Linked DNA regions of Homo sapiens. The protein of the gene in region 1 purifies or fractionates together with the protein of each later gene. This does not show direct contact. Each region holds a gene or a part of one and is shown in the gene's direction. Other genes may lie near its edges. The genes, in order: AKR1C1 and TMEM59.

Region 1 (4,548 bases):
CAGGTTCTCAGTCAAGGCATCAGCCCTACATAAAACCTCAAGTCCTTCTTAGTTTGTTTCTGAACATGCACCTACGTGGACTGTGTTTGCCCTTTTATGTATCCCCAAATAACCAATGGCTTTTGAATTGCTTACTATTATGAAATTTCGCATCCCAGTTTCTCCTCAATGGCTTAGATGGACTATTGCATGTCTCTTCCCCTGGCCTTTTGCCTATAACATCTGTATGTGTATAGTCACCCTGAATCTCTACTGAGCCACTCCAGAAATAAATAAGTTTATTTCAGTCAATTTTAGGTATTTTCTGATGTTTCCATGAGTTATATGGGAATCTTAGAATCCACCATCTTGTTGAAATTACTCTGTGAAAAATTTCAATATCTTTATAATATTACATTTATGTCAATGATAACAATTTACCTATTTTTCAATTTCTGTTTGTTTTATGAAAAAGCAAATAGAAGCAATCAGGGCACTGCAAGTTGTGACTACTCCAAGATGTGAATCATGGATCATGCAAATTACAATCATGTTTTAACCTGACCTCCAAAGGGAGAATAAAGTAAAAATTATCCCATGCGAGGATTATTCACCAGTTTATATGTCATTAGTTACCAGTTTTTCTTTATGAATAATGTTTAGCAATATTATAAAGTATATCTAATAGTTATCATATTTTGGCTTGTTACTTTTTGGTAGCAATTCATAAAAATGGCTGGAAAAGACAAATAAGGCACTGTTTGCATGTTACAAATTATATCCAAAGTCCAAAAGCTGTTAATAAGAAATCTTCCAATAAAACCACATCATATTTTCTTTTTTATTTACACCCACATCAGGATTACAACTTTATCAGGACTGCACCTTGATCAGGAAGGGATGTTTCTCTTACAAGGCTAATAAGAAAGGAACAATAAATTTGCTGATGAAAAAAGTAATGCATTAAAAAATTTTAACTTTAATTTTTAATTGAGGGCAATATTTTAAAGAAATGCTCATTAGTCATTCCTTTAAATTGTGTGTGTGAGAGAGAGAAAAATGAAAATTAGTCATTTCAAATGCTGCAAGATGCAGAAGGAACTCATCATCATGACACAAACAAAAAAGAGCTGTGCCGCTAGAGGTTTCTGTATTCTTATGTAAAGTCACAATTTGTTCTACAAATCTCTTTGAGTAATTTATGTCTCATATATAGAGATCTGGAATAGCAAAAATACTTCAGAGGAAATTAATGAGTGTATCATGACCACATAATAATTTACTTATGAATTTTCTTAGGTAAGAAACGGTTGAACTGGATGCAATTTTTATCACAGCTTGTGTAAGACTGCCTCTGTCCCTCCTCTCACATGCCATTGGTTAACCAGCAGACAGTGTGCTCAGGGGCGTTGCCAGCTCATTGCTCTTATAGCCTGTGAGGGAGGAAGAAAGAAACATTTGCCAGCCAGGCTAGTGACAGAAATGGATTCGAAATATCAGTGTGTGAAGCTGAATGATGGTCACTTCATGCCTGTCCTGGGATTTGGCACCTATGCGCCTGCAGAGGTAACAATAATATTTTTAGTGTTGAGAGTTCAAAGGAGCTAGAGTAAGTGGAAGCTGACCAGGTTGTCAGGCTTGTGTTCCTATGTTACTCTGCATGACTCCCCTTTAAACGTCAGTCTTTGTTCTGCAATGCCATCTTGTCACAGGGTCATCTACTGCTTATTTGTGGCACTGTTTTGTCTTCTGTTTATGTTTATTTCACAGCTTGTCAGAGTCTATACAACTCAGCAGAAAGAACACGGCTTGCCTGCTCCCTCTCTTGAAGATTGATTGCAATGGGAGTGGTTTCTCTGTTTCTTTGTATAGTCGAACAGATATTTACTTCTTCCAAGAAGATACAATTCAGAGGAATTTTTATGGCAAAAGTTAGTGGAGACGGGGTGGATGAAATCTGTTGGGAGAGTATCACTGTTCTGATGGGCGGCCTTGAGCACCACACTGTAATACTAGACCTGGCCTAAAGAGAATTTCTCATGTACTATTCTCACCTCTGGGAAAATTACCTGAAACGATAAAATATCCTCATTTTAAGAAAAAAAAAATACTAGAACCTAACAAGGAAAATTTAAATTCTTTTTCTTTGTTAATATGGGTCAAATTTGTATCAAAATATTGTAACAGAAAAATTTCTTGTTTCTCTGACAGGAAAATTAATGGAATAGATTTTCTTTTCTAGACTTAGCTATTTCTACACTGGAAGAAAACTTGTATCTCAAGACTGTCTTGGGAATACAATGTGTGTGAATAGGGACTAGTTACATAAAATTTGGGTTTCACATTTCTGATCTATACAATATAAGGATTTACAAAGGGACATTTTGAAGACCATTGACAGGAGTGGTTTACTTTGTAATATAAATTGACATGGAGAGGAAGTAAAGATGAGGATACCACTAAAGCTCCAGCTTTGGTAAGCCTTTGAGTACTCATACAGCAAAGAAATGATCAAGGATGGTATGAGGAGAGGGCTGTGAGACCCAGTATCTAGTTCCTTGTAATTCTATGGGAAAAAGAAAGCCTCTGAAATACTTTCCAGATAGGAAAACAGTTTGCTTTGTTTCTGTTTTTGTCATTTAAAAGATATACTTTCAAATCTGTATCCAAATTTGTTACGTAAGTCAATAATTGTAAATTTCACTGCAATCATATGTTTCCTAAAAGAGTTGCCTTGAACTTATGGAACTGAACCCCATTTTGCTAATCACTTACTCCTTGCAGTCTATTTCTTATACAAATCAATATCCTTAGAGTATACATTTTTACACCTACTATTTAGTTCTGTCATGCCGACAGAATGGCTAATGGCTGTGTAGAAAAGACTTGACATAATAGACTGCTATCCATAGACAGGCCTGTTTCCCATATAAACCTGCTGGTATCTGATAAGGTGGATTTCTCACTATTTCCTAACTGATAAGAATGGTGGCTGTAAGTAACTGCTTGTGCAAACTGCGGAGTTTCTGTGCACCTGCTTTCCTTTTGGAGACTTTTGGAAGTTTTGTGCCTGCGAAGCAGAGTGAGTCAATGTAACCAGTCCCAGACAAAATCTTAGTAATGGAGTATGTAGAGAGCATCTCTTGTAGACAACAGTTCACATACATTGACAAAATATGATTCCGGGTAAAGTCAGTGCATTCTGTGCAATATGGTGGGAGAGGAATCACAGGAGCTTACACTGTATTCCTTCATATTTCCTTCCATGTGGCTATTTCCTCGTGTTAATTTCTTTTTTTGTTTGTTTGGTTTTTGTTTTGTTTTTCTGAGATGGAGTCTCGCTTTGTCGTCCAGGCTGGAGTGCAGTGGTGCGACCTCAGCTCACTGCAAGCTCCGCCTCCTGGGTTCACGTCATTCTCCTGCCCCAGCCTCCCCAGTAGCTGGGACTACAGGCGCCTGCCACCATGCCCGGCTAATTTTTTCTATTTTTAGTAGAGATGGAGTTGTTAACCAGGATGGCCTTGATCTCCTGATCTCATGATCCGCCCAGCTCGGCCTCCCAAAGTGCTGGGATTACAGGTGTGAGCCGCCACGCCTGGCCATTCCTTGTGTTAATTTTACCATACTAAAAATAATTAAGATTATATCTATAACTATAGGTTGCATCCTGTTAATTTTTCCAAAAAATGACTGAACCTGAAATTGTTTTGGGGACACTTCCAAACTAGTGGTCAAGCAGTGATTTTTCTGGGACTGCAGAAGTTCCTGCTGTGCCCAACCTTTATTACTAACTGGGAAAGACCCAGGGAGACTGGGATGGGCTCATGATTCTACATACAGAACTCATCCAAGAAAGGAGGAAAAGCTGATTTTTGTGAACGTCGCTACTTGTGCCTGAACTAACTCTCAGGCACATTAGTCAGAAAATACTACCTATGGTTACTCCCCCAGGTTCCTAAAAGTAAAGCTTTAGAGGCCACCAAATTGGCAATTGAAGCTGGCTTCCGCCATATTGATTCTGCTCATTTATACAATAATGAGGAGCAGGTTGGACTGGCCATCCGAAGCAAGATTGCAGATGGCAGTGTGAAGAGAGAAGACATATTCTACACTTCAAAGGTACTGTGCCTATGATGAGCTTGTGTGCACATGTATTTATTGTGATTGTGTGGAGGTGGCAGTTCTATGACTGGATCCATAGTATAGGGTGAATTGTGCTTATTTATTACGATTTATTCACACTTACTCATGTATTAAAACTAATATCAAAGGCAGGAAGTGAAGATGGCTTTCTCATCTTTGCAGTGTTCCAATTCATGCCTTCAAAGTGCCTTTACTTTTTGAGCTCAGCACAGATCAATATGGTTTAACATAGACTATAGAATCAGAAAAAATCCTAATCATATTATATTATTTCTTACCTCCTGGGTGAGTTTCTTACACTTGTTATGATTCTCAGTTTCCATTATTATGTTGATCATAGAGAGAGAAAGCAATATAAGCAAGCTCTGTGAGTATTAAAGAATAACGCCTACATTATCTCAAATTGTGTCCAGCCCAAGTTGACAT
Region 2 (3,500 bases), on another chromosome or scaffold:
TGTTCATTCTAGTGGACTGTTCTATCTCAAGTATAAAACTGCAGTAGTCCAAATCACATGCTCCCTGTAATTTCTTATAGAAACAGTTTCTTGAGAGGTTTTATCATATATCATTACAATTATGTGGACCTTACAAATTAATACTTTTTACTAAGCAAAATGTTTAAAGACTATGTGAGAAAACAAGGATTAAACTTTAAATTTTATCCTTCGTTCATTTCTAAACCTGGTTTTGAGCTTGTCCAAAAAAGGGCAGTTTTTCTTTCCAGTATTTAGGATGTATGTTGCAGTTTGATAGTTCTGTGAAACCTAAATAATTATTTAATCTTAAGTTACAGTTCTCAGTACTGTACTACCTGGCATATTATTGGTGATTTATTGACCTTTAACATTTTGTCATTATATGTTATGTTGTTTTTTTACATCTAACACTTTAAAAGTAATTTTGTGAAGCAACTAACTTTATAATGTATTTATAGAAATGTATTTCTTAGAAGTTTCTGTGCCCAAACATAAATTATAATAGGATCCTACATTTGAATAAAAATTATTCTTTTGGCCGAGTGCGGTGGCTCATGCATGTAATCCCAGCACTTTGGAAGGCCAAGGTGGGAGGATCACTTGAGCCCAGAAGTTCAAGATCAGCTTGGGTAACATAGTGAGACCCCATCCATCTCTACAAAAAATAAAAAAATTAGCTGGACATGGTGGCACACACCTGTAGTCCCAGTTGTCAAGAGGCTGAGGTGGGAGAATCACTTGAACCCAGGAGGTTGAGACTGCAGTGAGCTGTGATCGTGCCATTGCACTGCCTGAGTGACAAAGCGAGACTGTCTCAAATTTTATTATTTTTTTAAGTGTTCTTTTTTTAAATGCTTTTTCCCCTTCAGTGATCCCATTTGACTTTTAGAACAATACCCTGTGATAAGTAGGTGGTGATTTAGAGAGGTGAATTGACTACTCGCAAGGTTATACAGTCACTATGTTAGCATTCAAACCTAATTTTTCTAACTGTACATCTTCTGCTCATCCTATTCTGCTGTAACTATTTACTTCCTAAAGTGTCATGATTTTTCCATGATTACATACAGAATCACTCAGCCAGTTATTGGAATCTGGTCGTAGCTGTTAAAGAGACACCCTTGTCTCCAGAATGGAAATTGAGGTCACTCTTTCTTCACTTGCATTTCTTTTTGAGGAGCCAGGCACTGTGCTAGGGAGTTGAGACCTAGTAAAGATGTCAGGAGTTCTCAGATCTAAACAGACATGGACAATAATGATTGCTATACACACACACAGTCCTACACATGTCTCATACACAGCATATAAGGACTGTATTTAAGTCTACTGGAGGTTTCAAGGGGAGGATTGACAGGTGAGATAGAAATATCTCAAGTGATGAGTAGAAATTTTTGCTAGTTATAGCAGAAGATTTACTTAAAATTTTTTTTTCAGATATACTGGCCTCCTGCTCAATGTGTATAGGGTACATTACTATATATGGAGGATAAGGAGAGTCAGAAATTTGACTGAACTGGGAAAACAGGAATAGAGAGAATCAGGAACATAAGTGTCAAGAAGAGGCTTCTATGTGAAGGATAGATTAGAGGACCAGGTTGGAGAACTTTGGTAAATCAGGGAAGAAATTATGAGGTCTGGATTAGGGCAGTAGATAAGAACAGGAGATAATGGAGATAGTTGAAAATCTGTAGGATCTAGTCATTGTTTTGTTGTGGAGATTGAAGGGATGAGCCCCAGTTTTCTGGCTTAGGTAGTTGCTACTGGAATCTAGATATCAAATATATCCTCATTTTGTGGTAAATTCCTTAGTACTCAGGTTACTTAGGGCTGGAACATGGAGAGGAAAGTGGGTATTTGTTCATTAAAAACATATTTTACTCTATTATCTTTCTAAATTGGATACTTAAAGAATCATATGGGAGTTCCCTGCTTTTAGATACAATACATTCTCCAAAGTCCACCTCTTTTGCTGGCAGACAAACAATGACTGTGCTTACTGCATGTTCAAGTCTTGGCAAACTATCAAGTGAGTGATTAGGGTGGTAAGTATAGATCTCTTACTAGGCAGTGTTGGATGAGCAGAGATGTGAAAATTAGGGAGTATCTGTATTACACAGTTTGTCAGAGTTAGACTTTTAATTATTTAAAAATGGCTTGACTTTTTCCTATTCTTTGAATCTTAATAGGTCAATTATGAAAAAAACTCCAGGTGGGAGAATGGCTTGCGCCCATGAGTTCAAGGCCAGCCTGGGCAATATAGTGAGAGCTTGTCTCTATAAAAATTCAAAATAAATAAAAATAAATAAAAAATCTCTAATTGCTGATTCTCATAACTGGCCTTCTGTCTTAAGATATTTTAATTATAAGGAAAATATAACTATCTCTTTACTGAGATATGCTGTAATGGTTACAGAATGCCTTATAATAGCTGTGCTTTTTTAAATTGAAGTATAAGTAAATTATGGCAAATTGAATATGTAAAGTATTCTAGGGAAACTGACTTCTGGAAGCCTGGTGTGAATTCTTTTATAAAACAAATGATCATTTTAAATTTACCTATTCTATACCTTAACTTTTTGGTATATTGGTTTTCTTAAAGCAAGTATCGTAATAACTTGCAAAATAATATATGACATTTGTACAACAGTGTACAATTTACAGGACACTTTCACTTGCCTTATATATTTAGCAGAAAGTCAAGTATATCTGATTTTATTATTATTACAAAAGTGATATAGCCATGTTACAGAAACATTAGAAGTGGAGGAAAAAGACTTTATGCCAACCTAATGTAATAGCTATTAGTATAATATTTCCTTCTGTAAGTATGTTTTTTAATAGTTTCAAAGATAACCAACAAAGTTTTAATTGTACTGTTGAGCTAAGTACATAAGGTTGACTAATTAAGAATTTCCTGTTTCTTATAAAATTTTAATATAACTAATTGTTGATTTTTTTTTTCCAGTAACTCTGGGTGGATTTTAACTACAACTCTTGTCCTCTCGGTGATGGTATTGCTTTGGATTTGTTGTGCAACTGTTGCTACAGCTGTGGAGCAGTATGTTCCCTCTGAGGTAAATTTAATTCTTACCATTTGAAGACTGAGCCCTGTGATATATCATTTTAAACACCTTATTTGTTTAGCTGGAAAAACAAGGCCTTTCTACTAATAGAAAGAGAGAAGATGTGGTGGTTTTAATGTGGTAGAGGTTGGCACACATAAAAATTACAGGTTTGCAGCACAAGAATTGTTGTTCTCAGCTTTCTGTGATGCTAACTACCGTGGTGACATATATGTTGACTGGCTTGAGAACGGTGTCTCTTTCTGACTCTCTAAGACTGAAAAGACCTGTTGACATCAGTTTCTAGGGGATATATGGGAAAGAAGACTTTTTTTTTTTTTGAGGCAGAGTCTCATCTGTCACCCAGGCTAGAGTGCAGTGGCCAGGATCTTGGCTCACTGCAACCTCTGCTTCCTA

What was found.
Region 2: the proteins of AKR1C1 (region 1) and TMEM59 purify together in Homo sapiens (co-immunoprecipitation; one large-scale study listed by IntAct). This does not show direct contact.

The regions. Positions count from the first base shown.
Region 1 is NC_000010.11:4,961,984-4,966,531, forward strand, and holds the start of AKR1C1 (aldo-keto reductase family 1 member C1), read left to right. Parts: upstream 1-1,431; 5' UTR 1,432-1,461; coding exon 1,462-1,545; intron 1,546-3,930; coding exon 3,931-4,098; intron 4,099-4,548. UniProt on the Homo sapiens protein: Cytosolic aldo-keto reductase that catalyzes the NADH and NADPH-dependent reduction of ketosteroids to hydroxysteroids.
Region 2 is NC_000001.11:54,036,205-54,039,704, reverse strand, and holds part of TMEM59 (transmembrane protein 59 isoform 2 precursor), read left to right. Parts: intron 1-2,986; coding exon 2,987-3,095; intron 3,096-3,500.